Linked DNA regions of Homo sapiens: regions 2 and 3 are each linked to region 1. The links come from fine-mapping of genetic effects on gene expression. A gene starts in region 1. Each other region holds a variant in brackets. All regions are shown on one strand. Distances are from middle to middle.

Region 1 (2,756 bases):
TTGGAGTGATGGGGCCACAAGCCCAGGAAGAACTCAGGCTGCAGAAGCTGGAAGAGCAAGGAAGAACTGATCCTCTGCCAGAGCCTTTGAGGGAGCAAAGCCCTAGTGTCACCTCCATTTCAGGTGTCTGGCCTCCAGAATTGAGAGAGGATATACTTCTGCTGTTTTTAGCAACCCAATTTGTGGTCATTTGTTACAGCAGCCCCAGGAAACTAACCCAGCTGGGATGGAGAGAGGACTTGGGGAGGCTGGTGGAGGCAGGAAGTGCTGAGGAAGGAGAATGAGGCCGGACTGGGTGTGTGGGGTGGGGGTAAGAGGTGGAGACTTCCACACCATCAGGAGATCAAGGCGCCTGGGCAGAAGGGTTTAGGGAGCAGTAGCTTTTTCCTCTCCATATTGCCAGCTGTCTGAAATTGTAGCAATGATCTGAATGTATCAGAATGACTCCAGTGACTGTCACTAACTTGGGAGTGAGTACCTTTGGGGTTCTATGTCCCTAAAGCCTGATGCACCATTTCCTGCTTGTGGAAGACGCGAATGAAAAATGAGATGGTAAATACCTGAGTTCGATATTCAGCATTCATTCAGCAAACATTTATTAGGCTCCTACTGTGCGTCGCGCTGGAAAGGCAAGCAGAAGCTAGATTCCCAATCGATCCCGGGAGGCTGGACGATCCAGACACAAACACCGTTCATGCGTCTATTCGAAAAGGCCCTCTTGGAATTTTGTGCACAGCATTTCCTTGGGGTGTCGATGGATCGGGGTCTGCAAACATTAGCACCTTTTCCGGTGGCCGCTGTCTTCTCAGACCTCAGACACCGGCGCCTCCCCGTGAACTCCCGCAGGCGTCCCTAGCCCAGGGCTTGGCGGGCGCTGCCGGTTGTACCTGGCCTAAGCCACGCTGGGCCGACAGCCCGGGGCGACACCCCCTTCGGACGGCGGGGATTTGCGGCTCGGGTGACCGGAGGTGCCCTCCCGCGGGTCTCGGAGCAGCTCCGCGGGCTCTCGCTCCGCGGGGAGGAGCCTGCGTCTCCCAGGGGCGGGGCTCGAGGCGCCTAGGGGCCGGTGGACACATACCAGCCGCCCCGTGGTGTCGGCCTCTGCGCCTGCGCCTGCGCCTGCGCGCGCGGCCAGGCAGCGTCTGTGGCGCAAGCGCGCGCTCACCCTTGGGCGAGGGCCCTGAGGGGCGGGGCGGGGCGGAGGAGCGGCGGGGCGGCGAGGGGCGGGGCGGGGCGGCGAGGGGCGGGGCGGGGCGGCGAGGGGCGGGGCGGGGCGGGGCCGGACGCGGCCGGGTGGGGCGGCAGCGCCCGCCGCGAGCACCTCCAGTTCTGCCGGCTTCTGCGCGCCGGGGCCGCCTCTCCTTCCGCCGGTGCCGCGGCGCCTCATGGAAGCCCCGGAGGGCGGCGGAGGGGGGCCTGCAGCGCGGGGCCCGGAGGGGCAGCCGGCGCCCGAAGCCAGGGTGCACTTCCGAGTGGCGAGGTTCATCATGGAGGCAGGTAACCGCGGCCGGGGGAGGCCAGGACAGGCGGCGCCGCGGCCCGCTTCGCGGAGCGGGCCCGGCTGGCCAGGCCGGCCTTCTGGAGTGCTCACCGTAGCAGAGGCCGGGAAGCCCTGCTCGGGGCTGAGGACCTCCGCCTTTGCGCCGCGCCCGGTGTGCTGAGCAGTGAGCCGCGAGGTATCCCCATGGCGTGGACCGGTGTGCAGGCCCTAGGAGAGGACGTGGCCGGGTTGGGCCTCCAGCGAGGCGGAGACCGGCCCGGGCGCCCGCAGCTCTGCGCAGTGCGCCACGCCTTCTGCCGGCACCCGCGGCCCTGCACTCCGGTAGACTTTATGGCGCTTAGTCGCGCGGAGCCTTTTGGAGAACGCTGTCCGAGGGTTCCTGTCACTCCGGGGACCTAGGCTGCTTGCAGCTCCTGTTCCGAACCCTGCCAGGACATCCACAGTAGTGTTGGGCTCCGCGCTTCCCAGGCGAGGTGATTAAGCTAAGATCTCTGTAGAAACATCGTTTCCATCCAGCCATCAACAGTATTTTTTTTTTTTTCGAGACGGAGTCTCGCTCTGTTGGCCAGGCTGGAGTGCAGTGGCGTGATCTCGGCTCACTGCAACCTCCGTCTCCCGGACTAAAGCAATTATCCTTCCTCACGCTTCCGAGTAGCTGGAATTACAGGTGTGTGCCACCGTACCCGGCTAATGTTTGTATTTTTAGTAGAGACGGGGTTTCACCATGTTGGCCAGGCTGGTCTTGAACTCCTGGCCTCAGGTGATCCAGTTGCCTCGCCCTCCCAAAGTGCTGGGATTACAGGCGTGAGCTACCTCGTCCGGCCCATCAACAGTATCTTGATAGGAGATACTGTTAGTTGGCGGGTAGTTATTTCCTACCTTTACTGCTTGGGGGAGAAGGGTTGGGCAGATGTGCTTTCTACCCAAGGTGGGCGGAGAGTCTGAGGACTGCTGCAGGACTGTTCATCCCAGTGATATGTAAATTTACTGTAATTTGCAAGAAGAGTTGCAAAGTTATTATTAGGGAAGGATGGCAGTGACACCTCATCTGCTACCGTCTGCTCGGAGGGTCCGTGTAAATTGGGGTTTGCTCTGTAAAACAAAGCTTGGAAGGTCATGTCAGTAACAGCACCTTATCTGGCATCTCCTGGAATGAGGGGTCCCAGGTAGGAATTGTCTTTATATAACAAGTTTAGACCTTCTGAGGGACTTCTTTATAAAATGTATTACACAATCCTTTGTCCTTTGTAGGAGG
Region 2 (2,756 bases), 39 kb after region 1:
TCTGAGTCATAAACTGTCTTTCAGTGGCAACTGTCTCTTGACCTTTTGGCCTTACTATACCTCAATTTTTCTACAAATACACTATATTTTAGAACACTTAGCCCCTCCTAGACAGTGGGGCTGACCAGCCTGTCCACAGCACTGTGGGAAGCAGAGGTTAGTGTGTCAGCACTGGGCACAGAGGTCATCTCCAAAAGAAACTTCTGGAGTTATGGCAGCCTCATGCCAAGGAATTAAGTGCTAGAAATGGGAATGGCAGACCTAGAGGGAGCCAGGGAGGACTCCTTCCAGCATCTGTGAGAAAACTTCGTTCCGATGAGGGCTCACGAAACCCTTCTGGAAGCCAGCGCGCTCACCCAGGGCAAGGCCGGCAATGTTTGGAAGATGAAGAAGGCCCTCTCCGACATGCAGAGAGGACGGGGGCTACAGGAAAGCCAGGTGGGGTGGGGCTCCTTCTGGGAGTGGAGGTGGGGAGGCCAGTACTAGGGGTGGACGAGGGGTCTTGAAGCCCACCACCTCCACTTTTTGCAAGTGGCAGAGGCCAAGAGTGGAGCCGCCCCTCCTACCTGAATCCCGAAAGTGCCCAAAACGATGGTGCAGAAGATGGGGTTGCTGAAGATGCCGTCGAACACGTTCCTCTCGCCGTGGATCTTGCGGGCGTTGATCTCGTTAAAGAGCTGCATCATGACGAACGTGTTGAAGATGATGGTGTAGTGCTCTGAGGGTGGCGAGTGCAGGGGCGCATTCCTCCCGCTGTCGATGTCGAAGAAGAGCTCCCCTGGAAAGCAACATTCCCCACTCAGGCACAGTCATCTCAGCGCATGACGCATTACTCAGGAGCGAGACTTCGGTGTGTAGCTCCCGAGATGGGTCCCTTGTCCCAGGGGATGGCCACTTCCAGCTCACGGCCAAGGCCCAAGGCAGCCACACCCACCCCAGGCTCAACCAACCAGAGTCCTGAGACCCCTCTGGGCCAGGGGCCAGACCCTGAGCCTGAGGGCAGGAAGGAAGAGATTAAGAAGGGAAGTTCTTAAGGCTGGCTTTCCTCGGACGCCCTCCTCCTCTTCCTCTCTCTTGCGGTCACCCCC[CA/A]CCCACCTCACAGCTTCCAGCACGGCACCCCAGTCACTCCACAGGAGCAATCTTCACAGGGTAAATGTGGGCTGTTCTGTTCCTAGGGTTACCGTGGCCACTCTGGGGCTGGGTAGAAGCTGCCTACTCTACACAGCTACACAGCCGTGGGCAGGATGTCAAGACATGAACTGTTTCTCAGCTGCTCAGCGGCCTGGGAGGAGAGGCTTGCGAAAGAGCTGTAGGCCACCAGCAGGCCTGGCTGCAGGGTTGCTAGCCTGGCCCATCTGCTCCTTCCCCTGTGTGCTGTCCAGTCAGGAAGTGCAGCGTCCCACCCCGTACTGGGTGCGGAGACACAGGTGGAGACACACCAGACAGAATCTGAGCCCGAGGTGGTGGCAACAGTGTCCTGAAGTCCTCCCGGGTGCCCCTGGCCAGCCTACCGACAAACAGCAGGGTGAAGATGATGGCGAGCTGGTACACGGCGTGGCCCAGAATGTTCTTCATCATGGTGCGGGAGATGAGGGGCTTGTCGCGGCCGTACGGCTTCCGCAGCAGCAGCGACTCTGTGGGTGGCTCCGTCGCCAGGGCCAGAGAGGCAAATGTGTCCATGATCAAGTTCACCCACAACATCTGCACGGCTTTGAGAGGAGAGTCCTATGGAGAGGAGGCAGTCACCTTTCCATGGGCCGCCTGCCCGGGAAGGTTGGGGGTGGAAACCCAGTAGCTCCTGGGGGCTCCTCATGGGGTCCACATCACCAGGATTTCATGCCCATGAAAACAGACATCTCCATCCCTACATCGCCTTTACGCTAGTGGGGCGTTTTCTTTGGGCTGTCACGTGCCCGCCTCCCTTCTCTCACCTGGCAGCAGGTGTGCTCCAAATCCCTCGCAGGAGGTGAAAAACCCCAGACCACAAAACAGCCCGACGATGGGGTCTGCCATTTGGGGCAACAGAGTGAGGGCTGCTCTCCTTGTCTCCTGCACCTCAGGGGCAGGAGGAGGCAGAAACTCTGAACTGGACCTTCCTTCTCAGCTCCTCTGAGTTGTTCGTTAAAAATCAGCCTCACAGAAGCCAGACACACAAGGCCACGTACTGTCTGATTCCATTCATAGGAAACTTCCAGAACTGACAAATCCATAGAGAGAGAAAGCAGATGAGTGGGTGCCAGGGGCTGGGGTTTGGGGAGTAGAGAGTGACTGCTCACGGGGTCTGGGTGTCCTTTTGGGGTGATGAGAATGTTCTGGGAATAGACAGTGGAGGGATATAAACCTCGGAGTTATGTACTTTCAAAAGGTTAAAATGGTTCTGTTGAAGTTTGTTATGTGATTTTTTATCTCAATTTAAAAAATTGTTTTGAAAAGACCAAGTTGATCAGCAGGCAATTTAAACACCCCCTTTCTAAGGCGGGGTGAAGAAAATCTGGACACTCACCAATGGGGAAAATGGGACTGTTGAGAAAGGGTTCCCATGGGACGCATAGCCCACGCAGAAACTCATACACAGATGCTCCTGGCAGCACCATTCACAAGAGCCAAAAAGTGGGAACGAGCCATGTGTCCATCAGGGCAGACATACATAATGTGGCAGTCTGTGCCGTGGAGTGTTATGAGGCCATGAAAAGGCAGAAAGTCCTGCCCTATGCTACGGTGTGTGTGAGCCTGAAAACACGGTGCTAAGCGAGATG
Region 3 (2,756 bases), 170 kb after region 1:
ACAGATACTTCCTCAAAGAAGACATATGAATGGCCAAAGGACACATGAAAAGATGCTCAACATCATTAGTTATCAGGGAAATGCAAATCAAAACCACAATGAAATACCACCCCACACCCACTGGGATGGCTATAATGAAAAGACAGACAATAACAAGTGTTAGTGTATTAGTCTGTTCTTGCATTACTATGAAGAAATACCTGAGATTGGGTAATTTATGAAGAAAAGAGGTTTAATTGGCTCACGGTTTTTCAGGCTGTACAGGAAGCATGGCAGCATCTGCTTCTGGGGAAGCCTCAGGGGTTTTTACTCATGGTGGAACGCAAAGCAGGAGCAGGCACATCACGCTGCCAGAGCAGGAGCAAGAGAGAGAAAGGGGAGGTGCCACACGCCTTTAAAGGACCATCTCTTGGGAGAACTCAATCACTATCATGAGGACAACACCAAGAGGATGGTACTAAACCATTCGTGAGAACCCTGCCCCCATGATCCAGTAACCTCCCACCAGGCCCCACCTCCAACATTGGAGATTACAATTCAACATGAGATTTGGGTGGGATCACAGATCCAAACTATATTGGTTGGTGAGCATATGGAGAAACTAAAACGCTTGTACACTGCTGGTGGGAACATAAGATGGTGCAGCTGCTATGGAAAAGCTTGGTAGTTCCTCGCACAGTTGAACACAGAGTTACCACATGACCCAACAATTCCACTCCTAGCCGTATATCCAAGAGAAATGAAAACATATGTCCACGCAGAAACTGGTACACAAATGTTCACAGCAGCTTTATTTGTCATGGCCAAAACCTGGTAACAACCCAAATGTCCATCAACAGGTATTCAACAGGTATTGTGGTCCACCCATACAATGGGATCCTACCAACAATAAAAAAAAATGGAGTACTGATATGCACAAAAACACCTGATGAAAAAAGAATTGTGCTGAGTGAAAGAGGCCAGACATACACTGTATGAGTCCATTTCTATGGAATTCTAGAAAATGGGAATTAATCTATAGTGACAGCAAGCCAAGCAGTGGCGGTGGGGATGGGGGACAGTGAGGAGCAGGAAAGAGGGGTTGCTGGAGGCGCAAGGCCACTTTTGGGAGTGGCGGATCAATTCACTGTCT[T/C]GATTATGGGGGAGGTTTCATGGGTGTCCACACATGCCAAAAACCCTCCAACTGTACACTTTAAAGACGTGCAGTTTCTTGTATGCCCATTATACCTTCATAATGCTGTCAAAGAAAGATTAAACAATCATTGACCTTCAGGTCTGCAGCAGGCCTCCATTTCCCACATGAATATTCCCCGGCGGTGGAGAAGGCTCTAATTTGGCCTTCCTGAACACAAAAGGAGGGCACTGCGCTCCTCTCAAAAGTCCAAGGCCTTCGATTAAAGGTATATAAGAATCTGCAGAGCAGCTGTCCAGAACTCCTGGAGGACCCCCGTTTTGTGAAGACAGTGATAGATGCACTGGGGCTGGCATCGGATGGAACCAGCTGCGAGTCCCATGGCAAGTGGGAGCCCCTGAGACACGTGGCTGGGGCCCTGGTGTCAAAGACGTCCCCTCTCATGTTGCCTCAGCGTCATCATGCCCCCAGCCCAACACCTCATGGGCATCACAACCATCGAGACGACTACAGTTATAAAATTTGTGGTGGTCAGTGTGTAAATTCAAACCCTGTGGTAGTCATAATTTATATTAACTTCCCTTTGTCATTCTTAGAATAATTCTTTCATGTTTTGGAAAATTGCTCCTCATCAGGAGACTGTTAGAGCCCAAACTTTTGTATATGGCATCCCAGACTCTCCATACTCTGGTTCTAACTGACCCTTTAGCCCATACATGTCCTACTGAAACCTCTCTGCCCTTCTAAGCTTCCCTGAACACACCTCATACTTTCCCTTCTTCCCTGTCTGTCCGAACCCAAGCACTTCCCAGCCAAGGACTCCCTTCCTTTGCTTCTACCTCCACTTCCTGTCTCCAGAGCTGCCCTTCCAACTACCCTGGCAAGTATGGGAGCTGCCATGTTGCCTGAAGTCTGGGAACAGAAGCGACTGGAAAGAACACACAGCTGTGTTCTCAGGAGACTGATGTGGCACTTTGCTGAGGAACACAGGGGACCAGGCCCAGCCTCCCTTCCCTCTGGTCTCAGAGTCACGGCATCTGAGTGGCCTCGGGTGGCTGCCTGTGGTCCCAGTCAGAGGAGCCTGCACCCCTGGGCTGACCCGAGGCAGCTCACCCAGAATGCCTTTCTGTCTTACCTTCACAGGGACCCCCACAAGGAACACCCAAAGCCCAGCTCTGGCCATTCCCCACAATCTCAGGCTTACAGCCTTTCCTGTAACCTTGAACCCAAGGCCTATCCATGTAGTTTAAACCCTCAGAATAACCTCTCTACACTAGAGGGCTCATTTCCAGGCCAATACTCATACATCTTCCTTATTTGCAACCAAAGTAAATGGGACAGTTCCATTTCACAACGAATCCAGCCAGGACAATTTACTAGTTACATGGAGACACTGCCAGAGCATTTATGTGGCTCTTGAAGCATTCACAGTTTCAAAGGGCAAAAGCCCAAAGACAAAGGGGTCCCAGGTTGGCATCCAGGTAAGTTCTTCGGTGGCAGGGTGGAGGAAGCCTTGGAAAACAGGCAAGACTTTCCCCATAGTTTAAGCTTTTACATTCTAGCTGTCCATCACAAAGCAAGCTTGGGCTATACCCTCCCAGTTCCCCACACAGCAAGAGGGAGG

The links. PIP is the estimated chance that this variant, and not a neighbour inherited with it, causes the effect.
Region 2: its variant is the best candidate, but not a certain one, in a credible set for the expression of CCNQ in whole blood (TOPMed, PIP 0.74).
Region 3: its variant is the best candidate, but not a certain one, in a credible set for the expression of CCNQ in fibroblasts (GTEx, PIP 0.51).

What each region holds. Positions count from the first base shown.
Region 1 is chrX:153,597,703-153,600,458 of GRCh38, reverse strand. It overlaps CCNQ (cyclin Q), which reads left to right and starts at 1,320. Exons shown (of 5, transcript NM_152274.5): 1 at 1,320-1,497. The coding sequence starts at 1,386. LOC105373383 (a long non-coding RNA gene) reads right to left here and starts at 1,119. Exons shown (of 1, transcript NR_131982.1): 1 at 566-1,119. RefSeq lists silencers at 950-1,089, 1,190-1,239, 1,250-1,609.
Region 2 is chrX:153,558,698-153,561,453 of GRCh38, reverse strand. ATP2B3 (ATPase plasma membrane Ca2+ transporting 3) reads right to left here. Exons shown (of 22, transcript NM_001001344.3): 18 at 1,512-1,725; 19 at 567-778. Among named protein-coding and RNA genes, the nearest start is that of CCNQ, 39 kb to the left of the region's middle. RefSeq lists an enhancer at 281-1,065. The variant CA/A (reference allele first, on the strand shown) is at 1,089.
Region 3 is chrX:153,424,491-153,427,246 of GRCh38, reverse strand. ZFP92 (ZFP92 zinc finger protein) reads right to left here. Exons shown (of 6, transcript NM_001136273.2): 6 at 766-2,756. Among named protein-coding and RNA genes, the nearest start is that of ZFP92, 14 kb to the right of the region's middle. The variant T/C (reference allele first, on the strand shown) is at 1,133.